6 linked regions of the Homo sapiens genome follow. The protein of the gene in region 2 purifies or fractionates together with the protein of the main gene of each other region. This does not show direct contact. Each region holds a gene or a part of one and is shown on either strand. Other genes may lie near its edges.

What was found.
Region 1: the proteins of VWA8 (region 2) and ITM2B purify together in Homo sapiens (co-immunoprecipitation; one large-scale study listed by IntAct). This does not show direct contact.
Region 3: the proteins of VWA8 (region 2) and DCLRE1B purify together in Homo sapiens (co-immunoprecipitation; one large-scale study listed by IntAct). This does not show direct contact.
Region 4: the proteins of VWA8 (region 2) and NPAS1 purify together in Homo sapiens (co-immunoprecipitation; one large-scale study listed by IntAct). This does not show direct contact.
Region 5: the proteins of VWA8 (region 2) and HAPLN3 purify together in Homo sapiens (co-immunoprecipitation; one large-scale study listed by IntAct). This does not show direct contact.
Region 6: the proteins of VWA8 (region 2) and SIRT4 purify together in Homo sapiens (co-immunoprecipitation; one large-scale study listed by IntAct). This does not show direct contact.

What each region holds. Positions count from the first base shown.
Region 1 is NC_000013.11:48,253,706-48,257,205, forward strand, and holds part of ITM2B (integral membrane protein 2B), read left to right. Parts: intron 1-102; coding exon 103-231; intron 232-2,471; coding exon 2,472-2,678; intron 2,679-3,500. UniProt on the Homo sapiens protein: Plays a regulatory role in the processing of the amyloid-beta A4 precursor protein (APP) and acts as an inhibitor of the amyloid-beta peptide aggregation and fibrils deposition. Plays a role in the induction of neurite outgrowth.
Region 2 is NC_000013.11:41,881,110-41,884,609, reverse strand, and holds part of VWA8 (von Willebrand factor A domain-containing protein 8 isoform a precursor), read left to right. Parts: intron 1-1,118; coding exon 1,119-1,223; intron 1,224-3,500. UniProt on the Homo sapiens protein: Exhibits ATPase activity in vitro.
Region 3 is NC_000001.11:113,911,456-113,914,586, reverse strand, and holds the end of DCLRE1B (5' exonuclease Apollo), read right to left. Parts: coding exon 2,396-3,131; 3' UTR 501-2,395; downstream 1-500.
Region 4 is NC_000019.10:47,033,337-47,036,836, reverse strand, and holds part of NPAS1 (neuronal PAS domain-containing protein 1), read right to left. Parts: intron 1,521-3,500; exon of another isoform or gene 1,479-1,520; intron 874-1,478; coding exon 708-873; intron 1-707. UniProt on the Homo sapiens protein: May control regulatory pathways relevant to schizophrenia and to psychotic illness. May play a role in late central nervous system development by modulating EPO expression in response to cellular oxygen level.
Region 5 is NC_000015.10:88,885,545-88,889,044, forward strand, and holds part of HAPLN3 (hyaluronan and proteoglycan link protein 3 isoform 2 precursor), read right to left. Parts: exon of another isoform or gene 1,882-3,500; intron 1,802-1,881; coding exon of another isoform or gene 1,755-1,801; coding exon 1,631-1,754; intron 1-1,630. UniProt on the Homo sapiens protein: May function in hyaluronic acid binding.
Region 6 is NC_000012.12:120,305,321-120,308,820, reverse strand, and holds part of SIRT4 (NAD-dependent protein lipoamidase sirtuin-4, mitochondrial), read right to left. Parts: intron 1-3,500. UniProt on the Homo sapiens protein: Acts as a NAD-dependent protein lipoamidase, biotinylase, deacetylase and ADP-ribosyl transferase. Catalyzes more efficiently removal of lipoyl- and biotinyl- than acetyl-lysine modifications.

The sequences.
Region 1 (3,500 bases), 6.4 Mb from region 2:
TCTTCATTTATTAAAATGATAATCATTAAGGTTTTTCTAGTCCTGAGCCTTCTGTTATTCTGTCTGGAGATAAGATATTTAACTGTCTTTTTCATATTTTAGGACCCAGATGATGTGGTACCAGTTGGCCAAAGAAGAGCCTGGTGTTGGTGCATGTGCTTTGGACTAGCATTTATGCTTGCAGGTGTTATTCTAGGAGGAGCATACTTGTACAAATATTTTGCACTTCAAGTAAGTGGAAAAATTATTTTGTGTCTCTGATTTTTTTTTTTTTTTGCCTCTCCCGATGTGCATTACAAAATTGTTTACAACTTGCGCTAAGCTTGTACTTTTTATCTGTGACCTTCAGCCAGAGTGGTAGTTCTATTTTAAAGCTGTGTTTAAACATCTCTCCATGATATGTTTGCTGAGCCCATCACACACAGTCACTAAAAGCAGAGTAACTTGAAATGTTGGTGACTAAGGGATTTATTTAGGTCATTGGGTGATTTTACTAACCTTTATTTTCCTACTATAATTAAGGGTTGAGAGGAATAGTATTATCAATTGCCAGTTGAATAAATACATCAGCCACAAATGTTTTCATGTTGATAGGCCATAACTTGATAGTCAGCTTGGACTCCCCTATGGTCCTGCTGTACCCTTGGGCCCAGAATACAGTAAGACCATGTCTCTGCTTCTTTTCCAGTCATGGTTTCACTAAAGAACTGGGTGACTTCAGCAGTGATATTGAAATAACATAGGATGAAAGTTGTTTATAACTTTGAGTGTTTAATAGTAATCCCAGTGGGTTAAGACAAAGGTCTTCCTTGTGATTGATTATAATTTACAATCTATTTTGTAATATATTTCTCTTGGCAATAATACACAATTTTTTTTTTTAGGAGTTTTGAAGGGGAAATTACTTTCAAGGTTTTATGACTACTTCAGCTGTTTCAAAATTTGGAGAAACAGTTGACAACTAGACTTATTAAAATAATTTAACTAATTTTGAAACATTCTCAATTTCATGCTCATTTTCTGTGTTGTTCAAGATAATCAATCACATGTTGATAGACATTACCAAAATACTAGTCATCTTTTTAAATACAGTTTTATTTACAAGAAATACATATAGTATAGAAAAAATCATCGCAATTCCATTTTCCAGAGATAACATTTGGTGCATTAACTTTTTTTTTTTTCTTGAGACAGAGTTTCTCTCTTGTTGCCCAGACTGGAGTCCAATGGCGCGATCTCGGCTCACTGCACCCTCTGTCTCCCGGGTTCAGGCAATTCTCCTGCCTCAGCCTCCCAAGTAGCTGAGATTACAGGCACCTGCCACCACTCCTGGCTAATTTTTGTACTTTTAGTAGAGACAGGGTTTCATCATGTTGGCCAGGCTGGTCTCAAACTCCTGACCTCAGGCGATCCACCCACCTTGGCCTCCCAAAGTGCTAGGATTACAGGCGTGACACACCATGCCTGGCCCTGTGCATTCACATTTTGTATACCCTTAGTCTTTATTGTGTGTGTAGTGTGTGTAGTGTGTGTGTGTGTGTGTGTGTGTGCGCGCGCGTGTGCGTGCGCGCACGTGTACATGTACTGTGTGTTTGGCTTTTTTTGAGATGGGGTCTCACTCTGTCATCCAGGCTGGAGTGCGGTGGTGCAATCACAGCTCACTGTAGCCTCAACCTCTTGGGCTCAGGCAATCCTCCCGCCTCAACCTCCCCAGGAGTAGCTAGGACTACAGGTGCGTGGCACCATACCCAGCTAATTTTTTTATTTTTTGTGGAGACAGGGTCTCACCATGTTGCCCAGGCTGGTCTTGAACTCCTGGGCTCAAGCAGTCCATCTGTCTCAGGCCTCCTCCCCACAAAGTATTAGGATTACAGGCATGAGTTACTGCACCCGACCTTATGTACTGTTTTTTCTTTTTGTAAAAGTGAGACAGTAGCATAAAGATTTGCTGTAATCTAATATTTTCCACTGAATTGTGATATAAAGGGAAAAGTAGAACTACGTATATGCATATAGAAATTTCAGAAAAATTATCCCTTTTTTGGCTAATAAGAAAAAAGTCATTTAATTAGTAGACCATATCAAAACTTTTTAATATATTCTTTCAGAAAAACTTGACTAGTTTTGGAATGTATTCTTCTATAAAAACTGCTTACAGGTAGAGTAGGTCTGTTGTTTCTTTATATTTATTTGTTACTGGATAGCTAATTATTTTTATGTTCTATTTTCACCTACCAGGAAAAGTAAAGGGAAAACCAGCTGCCTTTCTTCTGAAGCTGTTCTTTTACAGTGCTTCAAAACCTGATCTTAAAGAATATGTTAACTCTGTAATTAAACTGTCTGACTTGTCATCTAAAAGCAAGAGTTTGCAAGCAAAATGCTATTTAGATAGAGGTGGCAGCTTAAGTAATGCTTATTTAAAAACCTGTCTCATGCTGAATTGCTGAAATGAGTCTTTAAACTCTCTATAGCCAGATGACGTGTACTACTGTGGAATAAAGTACATCAAAGATGATGTCATCTTAAATGAGCCCTCTGCAGATGCCCCAGCTGCTCTCTACCAGACAATTGAAGAAAATATTAAAATCTTTGAAGAAGAAGAAGTTGAATTTATCAGTGTGCCTGTCCCAGAGTTTGCAGATAGTGATCCTGCCAACATTGTTCATGACTTTAACAAGGTGAGCCAAGTGTCCAGAATTGTAGAAAGAATGCAGGTTCTGTAGTTTATGCTTTTTGTAGTTTTAATTTCAATATTTGCTAATTTATTATATTTAGAGTTTAGTTTAATAAACTGTCAGCATTTGGTGGGCTCTGCTATGTCTGAAGCAGACCCTGCTGATGCAGCCTTCTCATATCTTATCTCTCCTTCCCCTTGCCTTACCTACTCTTAAAGCCCACCTCATGACTGTTCCTCCTTTGCTGGCAAACTAATATTTTTTATATGTTCCCACATTTTCTTAGATAAGAGGTAATTTATGTTCCTGTTTCTTGGTAGCATTTTCAAAATCAATAATTTTGTTAATCTGTTTTTAAGTTCTCATTCTATATTTTTCCCCAGCTTTTGAGCATTTTTATGTAATGCAGAAAAGTTGAATACCCAAAATCCTCCACTTTGTTCCAAATATTGCCATATTTGCTTCATCTCTTTTTCTGTCATTTGACATAAGTACTTATGCTATTATCTCTCAAGAATGAGTTGTCCTCCTACGTAACCACATAATTATCACATCTAAGAAAATTAACATGATCTTATAGGACAGTAGTCCCCCCTTATCCGTGGGGGATACATGCCAAGACCCCCAGTGGATGTCTGAAACTGCATATAGTACCAAACCCTGTATATACTATGTTTTTTCCTGTTAGTGTACATATATACATATGTTAAAATTTAATTTACAAATTAGCCACAGTAATAGATTAACGACAATAATAATAAAACAGTTATAACAAAATACTATAATAAAAGTTATGTGAAGGTGGTTTCTCAAAATATTTTATTA
Region 2 (3,500 bases):
GTTTGCATGTGCTTTTTTCTTTTTTTTTTTCCTGAACCATTTGGAAGTAAATTGCAGTCAGTACTCTTAAATACTTCAGTGTGTGTATCAGTTCGTTCTCCCGCTGCTATGAAGAAATACCTGAGACTGGGTAATTTATAAAGAAAAGAGGTTTAATTGACTCACAGTTCTGCAAGGCTATGGAGGCCTCAGGAAACTTACAATCGTGGTGGAAGAGGAAGCAAACACGTCCTTCACATGGTGGCAGGAGAGAAAAGTGCAGAGTGAAGGAGGGGAAAAGCCCTTTATAAAGCCATCAGATCTCATGAGAACTCACTATCATGAGAACAGCATGGAGGTTAACTGCCTCCATGATTCAGTTGTCTCCCACTGGGTCCCTCCCATGACACGTGGGGATTGTGGGAGCTACAATTCAAGATGAGATTTGGGTGGGGACACAGCCAAACCATATCAGTATGCAACTTCTAAGAATTAGGACATTCTTCTACATAACCAGAACAACATTATCACACTTCATATCATGTTAACAGTAATCCATAGTATCATCTAATAGATAGTTCATATTGAAATTTCACTAATCTTTCTTGTCAACAGACTTTTAAAGTGGGGTGAACAGAATTGACAGTGCAGATAATGTGAGGAAGGATTTGAGGATAATGAATACTTTCTAATTTTGTAGTTATAACTGTGAAGCTAAGTGAATGTGGATGAGATTAACTTAGGAATAAAAAGGGATCAGGTACTTTGGGATGAATAAGGTAGAGACATGTATTCTGTTTCAAATGGGGGTCTATGGGATATTCATATAGTCACATGTAATGAACAATTGAGGGTTCAGGTTTAGAGCTCAAGAAAGAAGTCAAGACCAGACATAGAAGTGTGGGAGCCATCAATACATAGAAGATAAATGAAAGATGGGAATGGGTAAGCTTACCCAGAGAAAGGGCAAGGAATGAGAAGAGAAAATAATGAATATTTGCTTTTGTAGACTTACAGAAAATACCAGACACCTATTGGTTACTTTTATAAGTCAATTTTAATGTCATATGTACATTTCAGATGTTTTCTGTGATTATTTTGAATTTTGCTCATTCCTATGTATTTTTGCTCCTACATAGGATTCCTTTCCTATGATGCCAATCAAACATGCAATCCAGTGGCTTTATCCATATAGTATTTTACTAGGTCATGAAGGGAAGATGGCTGTGGAAGGTGTTTTAAAGGTGAGTGTCTGCTTCCCTTTCTTTCCTTTCTTTTCCCATTTTCCCTTCCCTTGCCTTTTCCCATCTTCCCCTCACTCCTTTCCCCACCTTTCCTATTTTTCTCTCCCCATCCTTATTTCTTTCCTTTCCCTTCCCCTCCATTCTTTACCAGGCATGGAGGTATCAGCATTCCAACAAGAAGACAGCTGTGATAAATAGGGCAGCAAACACACAGGGGCTGGTGTGATTGGGAGATTGGTTATGTTGAGCAAATAAGTAAATAGATTGAGCAAATGAATGAATATATTAAGGATAATAAGAGTTATGCTTCTCACTGTTGGATGAGGGATTTATAACCATGGAAAGGGGGAAGGCAAGAAAAAACTCTAAGGTATTGGATTGGAATTGGTGTTATTATGAATCATGACTTTTTTTAAACAATATATATGAACAAATAGATAGAGATAGTATGTGTATATGTATACATACACATATTTTCTAGCTGTCTCCTAAGGCAGCCTAAAAACTATGATGTTCTCATATTTAGTTAAAAAAATAGGATTGCTCTCCCTCTCCCTCTCCCTCTCCCCACGGTCTCCCTCTCCCTCTCTTTCCACGGTCTCCCTCTGATGCCCAGCCGAAGCTGGACTGTACTGCTGCCATCTCGGCTCACTGCAACCTCCCTGCCTGATTCTCCTGCCTCAGCCTGCCGAGTGCCTGCGATTGCAGGCGCGCGACGCCACGCCTGACTGGTTTTCGTATTTTTTTGGTGGAGACGGGGTTTCGCTGTGTTGGCCGGGCTGGTCTCCAGCTCCTAACCGCGAGTGATCCGCCAGCCTTGGCCTCCCGGGGTGCTGGGATTGCAGACGGAGTCTGGTTCACTCAGTGCTCAATGGTGCCCAGGCTGGAGTGCAGTGGTGTGATCTCGGCTCGCTACAACCTCCACCTCCCAGCTGCCTGCCTTGGCCTCCCAAAGTGCCGAGATTGCAGCCTCTGCCTGGCCGCCACCCCGTCTGGGAAGTGAGGAGCGTCTCTGCCTGGCCGCCCGTCGTCTGGGACGTGAGGAGCCCCTCTGCCTGGCTGCCCAGTCTGGAAAGTGAGGAGCGTCTCTGCCCGGCCGCCATCCCATCTAGGAAGTGACGAGCGCCTCTTCCCGGTCGCCATCCCATCTAGGAAGTGAGGAGCGTCTCTGCCCGGCCGCCCATCGTCTGAGATGTGGGGAGAGCCTCTGCCCTGCCGCCCCGTCTGGGATGTGAGGAGCACCTCCACCCGGCCGCGACCCCGTCTGGGAGGTGAGGAGCGTCTCTGCCCGGCCGCCCCGTCTGAGAAGTGAGGAGACCCTCCGCCTGGCAACCGCCCGTCTGAGAAGTGAGGAGCCCCTCCGCCCGGAAGCCGCCCCATCTGAGAAGTGAGGAGCCCCTCCGTCCCGGCAGTCACCCTGTCTGGGAAGTGAGGAGCGTCTCCGCCCAGCAGCCACCCCGTCCGGGAGGGAGGTGGGGGTCAGCCCCCGCCAGGCCAGCCGCCCCGTCCGGGAGGGAGGTGGGGGGGTCAGCCCCCCGCCCGGCCAGCCGCCCCGTCCGGGAGGTGAGGGGCACCTCTGCCCGGCCGCCCCTACTGGGAAGTGAGGAGCTCCTCTGCCCAGCCAGTCGCCCCGTCCAGGAGGGAGGTGGGGGGGTCAGCCCCCAGCCCGGCCAGCCGCCCCGTCCGGGAGGTGAGGGGCGCCTCTGCCCGGCCGCCCCTACTGGGAAGTGAGGAGCCCTCTGCCCAGCCGCCCCTACTGGGAAGTGAGGAGCCCCTCTGCCTGGCCACCACCCCGTCTGGGAGGTGTACCCAACAGCTCATTGAGAACGGGCCATGATGACAATGGCGGTTTTGTGGAACAGAAGGGGGGAAAGGTGGGGAAAAGATTGAGAAATCGGATGGTTGCCGTGTCTGTGTAGAAAGAGGTAGACATGGGAGACTTTTCATTTTGTTCTGTACTAAGAAAAATTCTTATCCTGTTGATCTGTGACCTTACCCCCCCCCCCCCCCCCCCGGCAAAAAAAAACTATGATGTTCTAGTAGCAGTGATCATACCAAGTACCTGGACATTGGTTTCTAAATACCATGCTCTCTAAAAGGATTAGGTCAGGGAATGCAGAAGATGAGCCTGGACCATCTTTTTGTGCCAGAGAGTAAGGAAATATTCAACAAATGATGTCGATATGTCAAAATGATGGAGTTCCCAGGTTGAAGTGGCTGAAATCTGGGACAATTTGAGCATAAAAATAAATGATGATGGTAATTGGTTTTAACCTG
Region 3 (3,131 bases), on a different chromosome or scaffold from region 2:
AATGCAAACATGCTACCAACAACTAAATTCCTCAAAGTCTTTTGCTTCCCCTCCCCTATCTGAATGCATATAGAACCCACTTGAAGGAACAGGTGTGACACAGCATGTGCCAAGAGTAGACGGGCTCCCTTGTTGCTAGAAGATAACGCCAATATGGGAACCCCTGTACTGAGAACTACCTTATCTCTCCCAGCCACCTTCGGCCGCCTAGAAGTCAGACAGCTAGAGGATGCTAGAGGAAGTCCAGCTAAATTTGCCCACACAGTTTAGTAGCTATTTATTAAGTTAACACATGAGATGATTTTCCATGTGTTAACATGTACCGTTCTTGTGATCTCATTTAAACTAATGAGTCTTCAAGGTATTTTAATGCTATCCTGTCTGCAGAAAAGATGGTCAGGAAACCTTTCTGGAGGGCAATTCAGCACAATTGGTATCAAGAACTTAAAACTATAATCTAACTCCAGTAATTTACTTTAAGGAAATAAAAATGCAAAATATATGCATAAGGTTGTTCATTGTAATATATGTAATTAGAAAAACAGTACACAAAATGTTGAATATGGGAATGGCTTAGTTAAGGTATACTCACATGATAGGGTATTATACAAATATTAAAAATGGCATTTTTGAACAATATCTAATAAGTGAAATGCTTAAGATATCAAGAAATTAAAATGTAGGCTATAAAATTCTATACAATATTACCTCAACTTTGAAAAACATTTACATATTTAATACATCTACATGCATAGAAAAAAAAACTAAAAGATAGCAAATCAATTAATCTACGAGGAATTAAAATTTTTTGTTTTTTTGACTTTCAAAGTTTCTTATGTTATATACAGATTAATTTCTTTCAAGAACCAGAAGCTAAAGAGAACCAAAATCTGAAAGACCCATCCTGTGGCAGTCACTGAGCTAGGAGAATTTTACCAATTATTCAATCTCCATAGTAATCATGAGAGGTAGGAATCTCAAGTCCATCTTACAGATGAGGAACTAGGCTCCACAATTTAAGTAATTGCTCAGGGTGCCACAGATTCGAGCCTAGGCAGTCCCCATGTTTCCTGCTGCACCAAATGCCTCACCTGCTGTGGCTCCTAATAGGACGTTGGGAGACTTACAACAAAGGTCATTGACAAAACAGAGCTGTGTATAGCTTTCCCAAGAGCAATTGCTTTCTAAACTCTCTATTTCTCTCTCAAAGCAGAAAACTCTTTTAAATCCCCTGGACAAGAAATGGAATCTTCTTCACTGCTAGGGCTCGAGGTTCCATCCCAAAGCAGTTTTGATCCAGACGCCCAGCTCCACAAGTCTGTGCCCTCTCAGAGCCTACTCCCTCATAGCCGTGGTATCAGCTATCCTGCTTACTAGTTTGGCATTTTGTCAGGTTATGAGCAGAAGGACAGGGCAGACTGCACACCCCCACCCCTTCCCGCCAGCTGGCTCCTTGGTCTCTTCCTTGGATACTAAAACAAACAGGCTGTGTGCACTGGCTCCCTACATAATCCAAGGGGTGAGGGGAGCAACAAATATCCCAGCTATGTGAACAATTGGAGGAATATCTGACAACACATTTGATATTTTGTAACTGTTTCAGCCAAATAGGGTCTCCAGGCTGGGGAGTCCCTTCACACCCAAAGCCTTGTTGTTCAGCTGGGCTCTAGGTACTGCCTTGGAGAGAGCTGCCCAACCCCCCAGCTGGCTCTGTTCCACATGGATCCCAGTGATACTGGGATACTGCACATCCTCATGAAGGACATAGAGGTAGAATTTTCACTACTGTTCCAAGACCTCTTCATCGCTTCCTGTTCCCTCCCAGAGGCAGAGACAGGAAAATTATTTGGATGGTCACAGCAAGTCAGTGACGTTCAGGATTGAAGCATGCAGCGCCATAGTTCATAATTTTAAAAATAGAACTCCCTAGGGATTTTGATCTGAGAAGAGGGAGAAGGGGACATGGAGAATGGCTCATGACACCACAAAACAGCAACAGCAATAACCTGGTCCTTTTTGATTCAGACTCTTTACCTCTTTCTGTACCCACATAAGATGATTGCATGTTCACAAAAGTTTGAGAAATACTGGGTTAAACAAGGTTAAACAGATTAAGTTACTGTAGGACTTCAAAGAACTTTTAATTTGCTCACGCATACTCCAAAGATTTTATAAAAAAAGTATTTCTTAAACTTAGTTATAAAAAGAAGGATTCCATAGGCACGAGGACCCCAGTGAACAAGTTTTGGGAAGTGCTGCTCCACGGTGGGCCCATAAGAGTCTTGTAAAGATAGAAAAGTAGGCCCCAAAAACAAACTCTTTCCCACCAGCCATCAGTTACTATCTTCAAAACTGCAGTGTGGGCTCAATGTTGTCATTCTGTACTCTCCTGTCTTCAGCAGGGTTTATGGTATTTTTCCACTTGCTGGTCAAATCTCCTGGAAGAATACCCTGCCTGGAAAAAGTTCACTGGAGTCAGAAGATATTTGAGTGCTAGACCCCTGAATTCAGTAGCTAGAAGAGGGGTGCCCTTGCTGCTGTGGGACAGGGGAGAACCATGGCCCATCCAGGCACTCTGATTCCCTGTGGCTTCTGGACCTCCATCATCATCTCCCATGGGTACCAAGGGGGACCCTAAACCAATTTCCTCCCTGGTTTTTTGAGAAATAAACTCCTCATCTGTAGACCTTAAGTGCACTGAAAATCCCAGTGGGGCCGTCAACATAGTCACCCTCTTTTGAGACTCACAGAAAGGCACTGCCTTGTTCCATTCTTTGCTATAGAGATCTGGGAACAACTGCTTCTTGATCCGCAAAGGATGGTGGGAAGGCTGCTTTTCAAGGTCCGCAGGCCAGGGAGAAAGTTTCTCTTTCTTGGCCTTCTTTGAGTCTCTGTCAGCTTGAGATTGATCAGCACTTTCCTCAGGGGATTCAAACACAACACCTTGGGTTCTCGGCCTCTTTAGCCTCCTTTCTAACAGCCAGAGAAGGCTTGGTTTTCTAGAGGAAGAACTCATGTATTGCTGTACAGAGTCCGGAATCAGGGGCACGGAGATCCTGGGGCTCAGACTGTCCTGAAAGCCTCCACAGGGCCGCCGACTTACAATGGGCACCACCTGGCAAGGCTTCAGT
Region 4 (3,500 bases), on a different chromosome or scaffold from region 2:
AATCTCTGCTCACTGCAACATCCATCTCCTGGGTTCAAGTGATCCTTCTGCCTCAGCCTCCCGAGTAGCTGGGACTCAGGCACCCCCCACCATACCCAGCTAATTTTTTTTTTTTTTTTGTATTTTTAGTAGAGATGGGGTTTCACTATGCAAGCCAGGCTGGTCTCAAACTCCTGACTTTAGGTGACCCACCCGCCTCGGCCTCCCAAAGTGCTGGGGCTACAGCTTTGTGCCACCACTCCTGGCCTTTTTTGTAATTTTTGTAGAGATGAGGTTTCACTATGTTGCCCAGGCTGGTCTCCAACCGAGCTCAAGTGATCCGCCCCCCTGGGCCTCCCGAAGTGCCGGGGTTACAGGCGCGAGCCGCCGCGCCCGGCCCTAACGTAATTATGTAATGTGATTGTGCACTTACAGACACAGCCGGTGTATATTCCCAATAAGCCTGCCTTGTTATTTACCTAAGCCTCTCCCAACTCCTTTCAGCAGCCAGGGGGGTCTTTCTGTAGCTCGAATCTTTGGGAGTTTGGCAAGCTTAAGGAACCAAGTCTCACCGCCTCAATTTATACTCCGATTCCTTTTGCAAAGATTCGTTCTACACAGTTCTAACTTCACTGCTATTTGTATAAACGCGGCATGGCTGGATACAGTACAGCGGGCGTCCCCCGATCTACCCTCAGACTTCATTCTTTAGGAGCCCTTAGAATTACCGATCTCGGGGGTATCTGCAAGCGAAGAGGAAGAGGAGGAGGAAGAGGAGACGGAGGGCGGGGTTGGGGGGCCGGGCGTCGGCGTCCGCAGCCCCAGTTGCTCCAGCACCTCTGAGTGGTCCCCAGGGTGAATGTAGTCGAAGACGCTGCTGCCCGTCATCTCCACCTGCCGGCGAAGGAGGGGAATGCAGGGGGCGGGTGAGGTGCGCGCGCAGTAACTCGCTCGCCCTCTGGGCTCAGCCTTGCCTCATTTGCCTGCACGCAGGTGCGCTTCATGCCAGTGTGTTTTTTTAAGAAAAGAAAAAAACAAAAAACAATTACCTTTCAAACGGAAGATACAAACTTAGACTCTTCTCGCTTCATACCCAGTGATTAGTAAGGATTTTTCCCCGCCCACTCTATTAAGGGGCTGTGTGTGGGAGTGGGGCGTGGGTGGGAGGTGTCAGAACCTCCGTTTACCCAACTCCTGCTTACTCACTACCACCCCCATACAGCAAACAACTGTGCCCTGGCATGAATCACTGGGTGTCCCAGCAGGAATGAGATTCAAGATACAAACAGGGGAGTGGTTTTTAAGCTCTTAAAGAGTTAGAGCTTTTCAATCAGACACTTTTACATTCAATTCTACCCGTAAATCTCTCTCCTAGCAGTCCCCTTCTCTCCCTGCCTCCCTCAATGCAGGCCCCCATCTTCTCCCCACTGTGTTTCTGCCCCCGCGTCCTCACTGGTCTTCTGACCTACAGTTCAAAGATGCCTCTGCAAGTTACTTACCTGACCACCATGGCTGCCATGACTCCCATTGCCCCTCAGCTTGGAGGTCACATGCTTCCCTCAGTCCGTTATCCCTCTGGGCTCCGCCCCCTCATTAAATCCTCCCCCACGCCAGCTTCAACAGCTTCAAGCCTTTCCTTCTTCTTCTTCTTCTTCTTCTTCTTCTTTTTATTTTTTTAGACGGAGTTTTGCTCTTGTTGCCCAGGCTGGAGTGCAATGGCGCGATCTCGGCTCACCGTGACCTCTGCCTCCCAGGTTCAAGCAATTCTCCCGCCTCGGCCTCCCAAGAAGCTGGGATTACAGGCATGTGCCAACACACCTGGCTAATTTTGTATTTTTAGTACAGACGGGGTTTCTCCATGTTGGTCAGGCTGGTCTCAAACTCCCGACCTCAGGTGATCTGCCCGCCTCAGCCTCCCAAAGTGCTGGGTTTACGGGCATGAGCCACCGCGCCTGGACTTTTTTTGTTTTGTTTTGTTTTTGAGATGGGGTTTTGCTCTCGTTGCCCAGGCTGGAGTGCAATGGTGCAATCTTGGCTCACTGCAACCTCTGCCTCCTGGGTTCAAGTGATTCTTCTGCCTCAGCCTCTGGAGTAGCTGGGACTATAGGCATCTGCCAGCACACCCGGCTAATTTTGTATTTTTAGTAGAGACTGGGTTTCGCCATGTTGCCCAGGTTGGTCTCGAACTCCTGACCTCAGGTGATCTGCCTGCTTTTGCCTCCCAAAGTGCTGGGATTACAGGCGTGAGCCACCACACCTGGCCAAGCTTTTCCTCCACTCTTCCTCCCTCCCGTCCTCTTGTCCAAATTCCCCTCCTTTTGGTGTCTTCCTCCTCCAGGAATCTCACTGAAAAGGTACTCACAAGTTGCCAATGCACTGAATTTCCTAAATTTCCTATTTGTGAAAAATATTTGTAAAAATGATCAAAGTTGATAGCAATTTGTATTGGAGGGACTGGCAAAGCTTAAGGTGCTGTGAGATGCCAGGGCTCCAAGGATGGGGCTTTCAGTAGGTCTTCCTGCCCTTTTTTTTTTTTTTTTTTTGAGACGGAGTTTTGCTCTTGTTGCCCAGGCTGGAGTGCAATGCCACGATCTCGGCTCACTGTACCCTCCACTTCCTGGGTTCAAGTGATTATCTTGCCTCAGCCTCCCGAGTAGCTGGGATTACAGGTGTCTGCCACCACGCCTGGCTAATTTTGTATTTTTTGTTTTTTAGTAGAGAGACGGGGTTTCTCCATGTTGGTCAGGCTGGTCTTGAATTCCCAACCTCAGGTGATTTGCCTGCCTCGGCCTCCCAAAGTGCTGGGATTACAGGCGTGAGCCACCGCGCCCGGCCCTTTTTTTTTTTTTTTTTTTTTTTTTTTTTTTTTTTTTTTTTTTTTTAAGGCATAGCCTCACTTTGTTGTCCATGTTGGAGTGCAGTGGCTTCATCATGGCTCACTGCCACCTTGACCCTATGGGCTCAAGCGATCCTCCCATCTCAACCTCCTGAGTAGCTGGGACAACAGTGTGCCACCATGCCTGGCTAATTTTTAAGTTTTTTTGTAGAGATGGTGGGGGTGGGGGTGGTGGGGTGTCTCACTATGTTGCCCAGGCTGGTTTTGAATTCCTGGCCTCAGGTGATCCTCCTGGCTCAGCCTCCCAAAGTGTTGGGATTACAGGCATGAGCCAGCGTGGGTGGCCTCTAAACCTTTAAAATTGTTAAGAAGAAACAAGTGTTGGCAAATATGGTGCATCTGGCCCGCCAGTCATTGGCAAACTGATCTTTCAGTGAACCTGCTTTCCTCAGATCTACTTGTTACTTTAATAGCCCCCTCAGGCTGGGCGCGGTGGCTCACGCTGTAATCCCAGCACTTTGGGAGGCTGAGGCAGGCGGATTGCCTGAGATTGAGAGTTCAAGACAAGCCTGACCAACATGAAGAAACCCTGTCTCTATTTAAAAAATACAAAGTTAGCTAGGCGTGGTGGTGCATGTCTGTAATCCCAGCTACTCGGGAGGCTGAGGCAGGAGAATCGCTTGAA
Region 5 (3,500 bases), on a different chromosome or scaffold from region 2:
CCTCCCAGGTTCAAGCAATTCTCCTGCCTCAGCCTCCTGAGAAGCTGGGATTAAAGGCACCTGCCACCACGCCCGGCTACTTTTGTATTTTTAGTAGAGACAGGATTTCACCAGGTTGGTCAGAATGGTCTTGATCTCTTGACCTCGTGATCCATCCACCTCGGCCTCCTTAAGTGCTGGGATTACAGGTGTGAGTCACCGCGCCTGGCCAATTTTTTGTATCTTTAGTAGAGGGTTTCGGTATGTTGGCCAGGCTGGCCTTGAACTCCTGACCTCAAGTGATCCACTCACCTCAGTCTCCCAAAGTGCTGGGATTATAGGCATGAGCCACTGCACCCAGCCCTCAGCTTTGTCTTTTTAATAGCTGTTTGACCTGGACAACTGGATCAACTCTCTGAGCCTAGTTTGCTCATCTATGAGAAGGGATGATAATAGAATCTACTTTCAGGCTGTGAGGGCAGACAGCATCAATTCAGCCTGGTCAGCACCCGTGCTGCACTAATGGTTAAAAATGTGTATTTTCGGCAAGGCTCGTTGGCTCACGCCTGTAATCCCAGCATTTTGGGAGGCTGAGGCGGGTGGATCACCTGAGGTCAAGAGTTCAGGACCAGCCTGGCCAACATGGAGAAACCCCCATTTCTACTAAAAGTACAAAAATTAGCCAGGTGTGGTGGCAGATGCCTGTAATCCCAGCTGCTTGGGAGGCTGAGGCAGGAGAATCGCTTGAACCTGGGAGGCAGAGGCTGCAGTGAGCCAAGATCGCGCCACTGCACTCCAGCCTGGACAACAAAGTGAGACTCCATCTTAAAAAAAAAAAAAAAAAGGTATATTTTCACCCTTGCCTACATCAGGGCTTTTGTGATTACAGGAGACGACATATGCAAAATATCTAGAAGCGCGCCCAACCCATGTTGGGTGCACAATAACTGCTACTTTAAAACGTTCCCTGCCCAAGGCCACACAGCTAGTAAGAGGTAGAATTATAAGATTCAAACTCGGGCCAGGCATGGTGGCTTATGCCTGTAATCCCAGCAATTTGGGAGGTCGAGGCAGGTGGATCACCTGAGGTCAGGAGTTCAAGACCAGCCTGGCCAACATGGTGAAACCCCTTCTCTACTAAAAATACAAAAAGTAGCCAGGCATGGTGGCACATGCTTGTAATCCCAGCTACTCGGGAGGCCGAGGCAGGAGAATCGCTTGAACCCGGGAGGCAGAGGTTGCAGTGAGCCGAGATCGTGCCATTGCACTCCAGCCTCGGCAACAGAGTGAGACTTTATCTCAAAAACAAACAAAAAAAACATTCAAACTCACATCTATTCGACCCCAGGTCCCCTTTCCACTGGGGGGACCAGGGGAGGACACATTCAAGCTGGACCTTGAACAACTGGCAAGACTTTTAGGGAAAGTAAAAAGCCTAAGTGAATTGGGCCCCATGACGAAGGGGCTGGCGAACACAGGAAAATGAACTCACCCCTTCCCCTGTCTGAGAAGCAAGCTGGCCCACTACAAGGGCCCTGCTGGAACAGGGCTGCTGTCCCTGTCCCAGCCTGGAACCCTCAGATCACAGCAAGAGCCAAGGAGGTCTAGGTCACCCAGGGGAGCAAAGAGCCGGGTGCAGGAGGTCGCCTACCTTTGCCATGACCGTTGCCTAGGTTCTGGTCGTTGGCGCTGTTGGAGTAGTAGAAGCCGTTGTAGAAGGGCAGTCCGTAGGAGCCGGGCAGCAGGAGCAACGGGACCAGGAGCAACAGGCCCATCTCCTCATGCCAGGGTGACCCGGGCCAGGCTGGGGCCCCAGGGCAAACTGGGAAGGGGAGGAAAACAAGGCAATTAGAAAAGCCTGGCTTCCAGGGCCCACATCCCCTCTGCTCCAACACCACTCACTCGCTTGCTCAACAGCTCACTGCGGGACACCTGCCGCCTACGTGCCAGACGCTGTTCCCGGAGCTGAGAAGACAGCAGTGACAAGCTAGATGGGGTTCCTGCTTTCAGGGAGCTGTACCCCGAAGGCAAGACGGGAGATCAGCAAAGAGACAAATCATAAGAAGGAAGTATCAGGCAGCTAAAAGCAGAGAAAATTAAGCAGGATGATATGACAGGCTCAATGTTTTTCAAGCCAGAATTTGAAAGGTTATGGGCAGGCTGGGCATGGTGGCTCACGCTTATAATCCCAGGACTTTGGGAGGCTGAGGCGGGCGGATCACCTGAGGTTGGGAGTTTGAGGCCAGCCTGGCCAACATGGAGAAACCCCGTCTCTACTAAAAATACAAAATTAGCCAGGCATGGTGTCACATGTCTGTAATCCCAGCTACTCGGGAGGCTGAGGCAGGAGAATCGCTTGAACCCAGGAGGCAGAGGTTGTGGTGAGCCAAGATCATGCCATTGCACTCCAGCCTGGGCAACAAGAGTGAAACTCTATCTCAAAAAAAAGAAAAAAGAAAGAAAAGAAAAGAAAGGTATGAGCAGCACTTTTTAATGACGCCAAATAAACTAGACTAGAATAGAAAATATCAGGGTGAATAGAGGGTATGTTAAGTAAAGATGAGTCCTGCATTGTGAACCCTTTTTTTTTTTTTTTGAGACAGAGTCTCGCTCTGTCGCCCAGGCTGGAGTGGAGGTTGCTCACTGCAACCTCCGCCTCCTGGGTTCAAGAAATTCTCCTGCCTCAGCCTCCCGAGTAGCTGGGACTACAGGTGCGTGCCACCAAGCTCAGCTAATTTTTTGTAATTTTAGTACAGACGGGGTTTCACCGCGTTAGCCAGGATGATCTCAATCTCCTGACCTAGTGATCAGCCCGCCTCGGCCTCCCAAAGTGCTGAGATTACAGGCATAAGCCACTGCGCCCAACTCAAAAATAATTTTTGAACACCATGCTAGAGGTCTTGGGAGCTATTCCAGTTTGGGTGGGCGCTCAAAAGAGGTAGCCAACCCATGGGCTGTAGTTTGATGATTTGATTTTTTTTTAAATATTGTATTCAAATATTTTGTCTTGATTACTAAGATTTCTAGCAAACTCCCTTCCTCCCCCGCTTAAATCTCACACCAAGGGCTACTGCCTCACTCATGTCACCCTAGCCCTGCTCACCTGCCATTTACTGCGTGCTCTCAACAATTAAAAGATGGGGTCACTCCTTGAAGGAGCTTGGTCCAGGGAGGGGGCAGAGTCGTGGGCAGGCAGTCTTGATTGCTGTGTGTTGAGTACCACGATGGAGGTACAGAAACGGGAATGTCCAAATGAGACTGAAGATGCAGGAGTTTGCCAGGTGGAGAAGGACTGACAGGTTTATCCAGTAGGGCACTGCCACTACAAAGGTGCAGATGCCAGCAAGAGTCCCAAGCCTGGGGGTGCTGGGGGTATACAGGAGGTCCTCCATTTGCCCCACACACCCACCAGGTCCATCGTCTGTCCTTCTCTGACACGTATTGGTCCCTGTTGTCCCAGTTCCCCAGGCCTTCTGGCTTCCAGTGGGATTGAGCCAATGGGAGGCACTCAGAGAAGATGG
Region 6 (3,500 bases), on a different chromosome or scaffold from region 2:
GGTCTTTCAGGCTGACCTCCCTGACCTGCTCTTTTTAATCCTGTTTAGCCTTCCTCAAATGCTATTTTTATCATGTTGCTTGCTTGCTCAGAAACCACTAATAAACCCCTTTGGTGTCTCACAGCAGACCCAACTGCACTGCCTGATTTTCAAATGTAACCATGATTTGGGCCTAACTTTCCCAGACAATCTGGTTTCTGCAAGTCCCAGGTCCAAACCTCTACAGAGGCCAGGCCAGACTCCTCTGGGATCTACAACTTCCCTTCATTTGGAAAGCCCTGTTTCCCGCTCTTGCCTAGACAAACCTGAGCCAATCTCAAGCCCCCTGTACCCATAAAAGCTTTCTTGGGGCAGGCGCTGTGGCTCACGCCTGTAATCCCAGCGCTTTGGGAGGCCGAGGCAGGCGGATCACGAGGTCAGGAGTGAGTTCGAGACCAGCCTGGCCAACATGATGAAACCCTACCTCTACTACAAATACAAAAAATTAGCTGGGGGTGGTGGCAGGCACCTGTAATCCCAACTACTTGGGAGGCTGAGGCAGGAGAATCACTTGAACCCAGGAGGCGGAGGTTGCAGTGAGCCGAGACCGTGCCACTGCACTCCAGCCTGGGCAACAAGAACAAGACTGTGTTTCAAAAAAAAAAAAAAAAAAAAAGCTTTCTTGGGCCAGGCATGGTGGCTCACACCTGTAATCCCAACACTTTGGAAGATCAAGGCAGGAGGAGGGCTTGAGCTTAGGAGTTCGAGACCAGACTAGGCAACACAGCAAGATCCTGTCTCTATTTAAAAAAAAAAATTTTTTTTTTAAAAAGCTTTCTCAACTGATTATTCCAATCTTTACTAAATCTGTTTATTTGAACATGCACAGCATATAAATCAAGAACCACACAATTTCACAATCATGCGTTGTCATTTATCATTAATTATGTGCTTTTCTTTGTTTGTTTGCTTGGTTGTTTTTTGAGAAGGAGTTTCGTTCTTGTTGCCCAGGCTGGAGTGCAATGGTGCGATTTCAGCTCATTACAACCTCTGCCTCCCGGGTTCAAATGATTCTCCTGTCTCAGCCTCCTGAGTAGCTGGGATTATAGGCATGCACCACCATGCCTGGCTAATTTTGTATTTTTAGTAGAGACAGGGTTTCACTGTGTTGGTCAGGCTGGTCTTGAACTCCTGACCTCAGGTGATCCCCTGCCTCGGCCTCCCAAAGTGCTCGGATTACAGGCGTGAGCCACCGTGCCCGGCCAATTATGTTATTTTTGTGTCTTCCCAAATATTACAAAGTTCTTGCATATAAAGTGGGCCATGTTTTATACTTTGGTTTTTGTTTGTTGTTTGAGACAATCTCCCTCTGTCGCCCAGGCTGGAGTGCAATGGCACGATCTTGGCTCACTGCAACCTCTGCCACCCATGTTCATGCAATTCTCCTGCCTCAGCCTCCCGAGTAGCTGGGACTATAGGCGCCCGCCACCACGCCTGGCCAATCTTTTATTTTTAGTAGAGACTGGGTTTCGACATATTGGCCAGGCTGGTCTCAAACTCCTGAGCTCAAGTGATCCGCCCCCTCAGCCTCTCAAAATGCTGGGATTATAGGTGTGAGCCACTGAGCCCAGCCTATACTTTGGTTCTGACCACTAAGAAGCACAGTAGTTAGTGTTATAATGTACTACATAGTGTAACGTATGTACACCATACATTCTAGGCACCCAGTAAATATTTCAGCATTGGCAGACTGACTTCAGCCCTCAGAGGAGCCTCTCTAGGGCTTAAAGAAATAAGTCTCCAATTAGCTACAATTATTGCCAGACCCATAAGCATGATACCCTCCCATGTATCTGTTCCCTCATTATTGATTGAGTTCTGACTACTGCCCGGCTACGTTATGGTCTATGTATCTAGCCATCCTAGGCATTGGAAACCCAGCAGTTTATAGCACATGCTATTGGTGTTCAGCTCATATTTTCCTCAGAACATGCTAAAGGCCACGTTCGAACAGTTTCCTTTCTTTTTGTTTTTTTATTGAGATAGAGTCTCACTCTGTTGTCCAGGCTGGAGTGCAGTGGCACAATCTTGGCTCACTGCAACCTCTGCCTCCCAGGTTCAGGCGACTCTCGTGCCTCAGCCTCCCAAATAGCTGAGACTACAGGCGTGCGCCACTATGCCCAGGTAATTTTTTGTATTTTTAGTAGAGATGGGGTTTCACCGTGTGGGCCAGGATGGTCTCGAACTCCTGACCTCAAGTGATCTGCCTGCCTCTGCCTCCCAAAGTGCTGGGATTACAAGCATGAGCCACCGCACCCGTCCCAGTTTCCTTTCTCTGTTTTTTTGTTTGTTTTTTTTTTTGACGGAGTTTTGTTCTTGTTGCCCAGGCTGCAGGCTGGAGTACAATGGCACAATCTCGGCTCACCGCAACCTCCGCCTCTTGGGTTCAAGCTATTCTCCTGTCTAAGCCTCCCGAGTCGCTAGGATTACAGGCATGCACCACCACGCCCAGCTAATTTTGTATTTTTAGTAGAGACAGGGTTTCTCCATGTTGGTCAGGCTGGTCTCGAACTCCTGACCTCAGGTGATCCGCCCAACTCAGCCTCCCAAAGTGCTGGGATTACAGGCGCGAGCCACCGTGCCCAGCCAATTTCCTTTCTTAAAAAAATTTTTTGTAGAGACGGAGTCTGGCTGTGTTACCCAGGCAGGTCTTGATCTCCTGGCCTCAAGTAATCCTCCTGCTTCAGCCTCCTGAGTTGCTGGGATGACAGATATGAACCACAGCACCCTGGTGGACACAATTTTCTTTCTTTCTTTTTTTTTTTTTTTTGAGACGGAGTCTCGCTCTGTCACCCAGGCTGGAGTGCAGTGGCGCGATCTCGGCTCACCACAAGCTCCACCTCCCAGGTTCACGCCATTCTCCTGCCTCAGCCTCCCGAGTAGCTGGGACTACAGGCGTCCGCCACCGCGCCCAGCTAATTTTTTGTATTTTTAGTAGAGACGGGGTTTCACCATGTTAGCCAGGATGGTCTCGATCAACTGACCTCGTGATCCGCCTGCCTCAGCCTCCCAAAGTGTTGGGATTACAGGCGTGAGCCGCCGCGCCCAGCCTACACAATTTTCTTACAAGCAGTTTCCTGTGTCTCTCTTGCCTCAGATGTTCTCTGCCCACGGAAGCCTCCTTGGGAGGAGCAGAGTCAAAATGTTAGGGAATTAATTCCCCTAGAGTGATCCTGGACCCATGAGGGATGAGAGATGGTGAATAAATACCCTAGCTTCAAGGCCAAGCACAGTGGCTCACACTAGTCATCCCAGCACTTTGAGATGCCAAGGCAGGAGGATCACATGAGCCCAGGAGTTCGAGACCAGCCTGGGCAACATAGTAAGACTTCGTCTCTACAAAAAATAAAAATTAAATTAAAAATTAGCTGGGCACGGTGGCGTTTGCCTGTAGTCCCAGCTACTTAGGAGGCTGGGGTGAAAGGATCACTTGAGCCCAAGAGATTGAGGCTGAAGTGAGC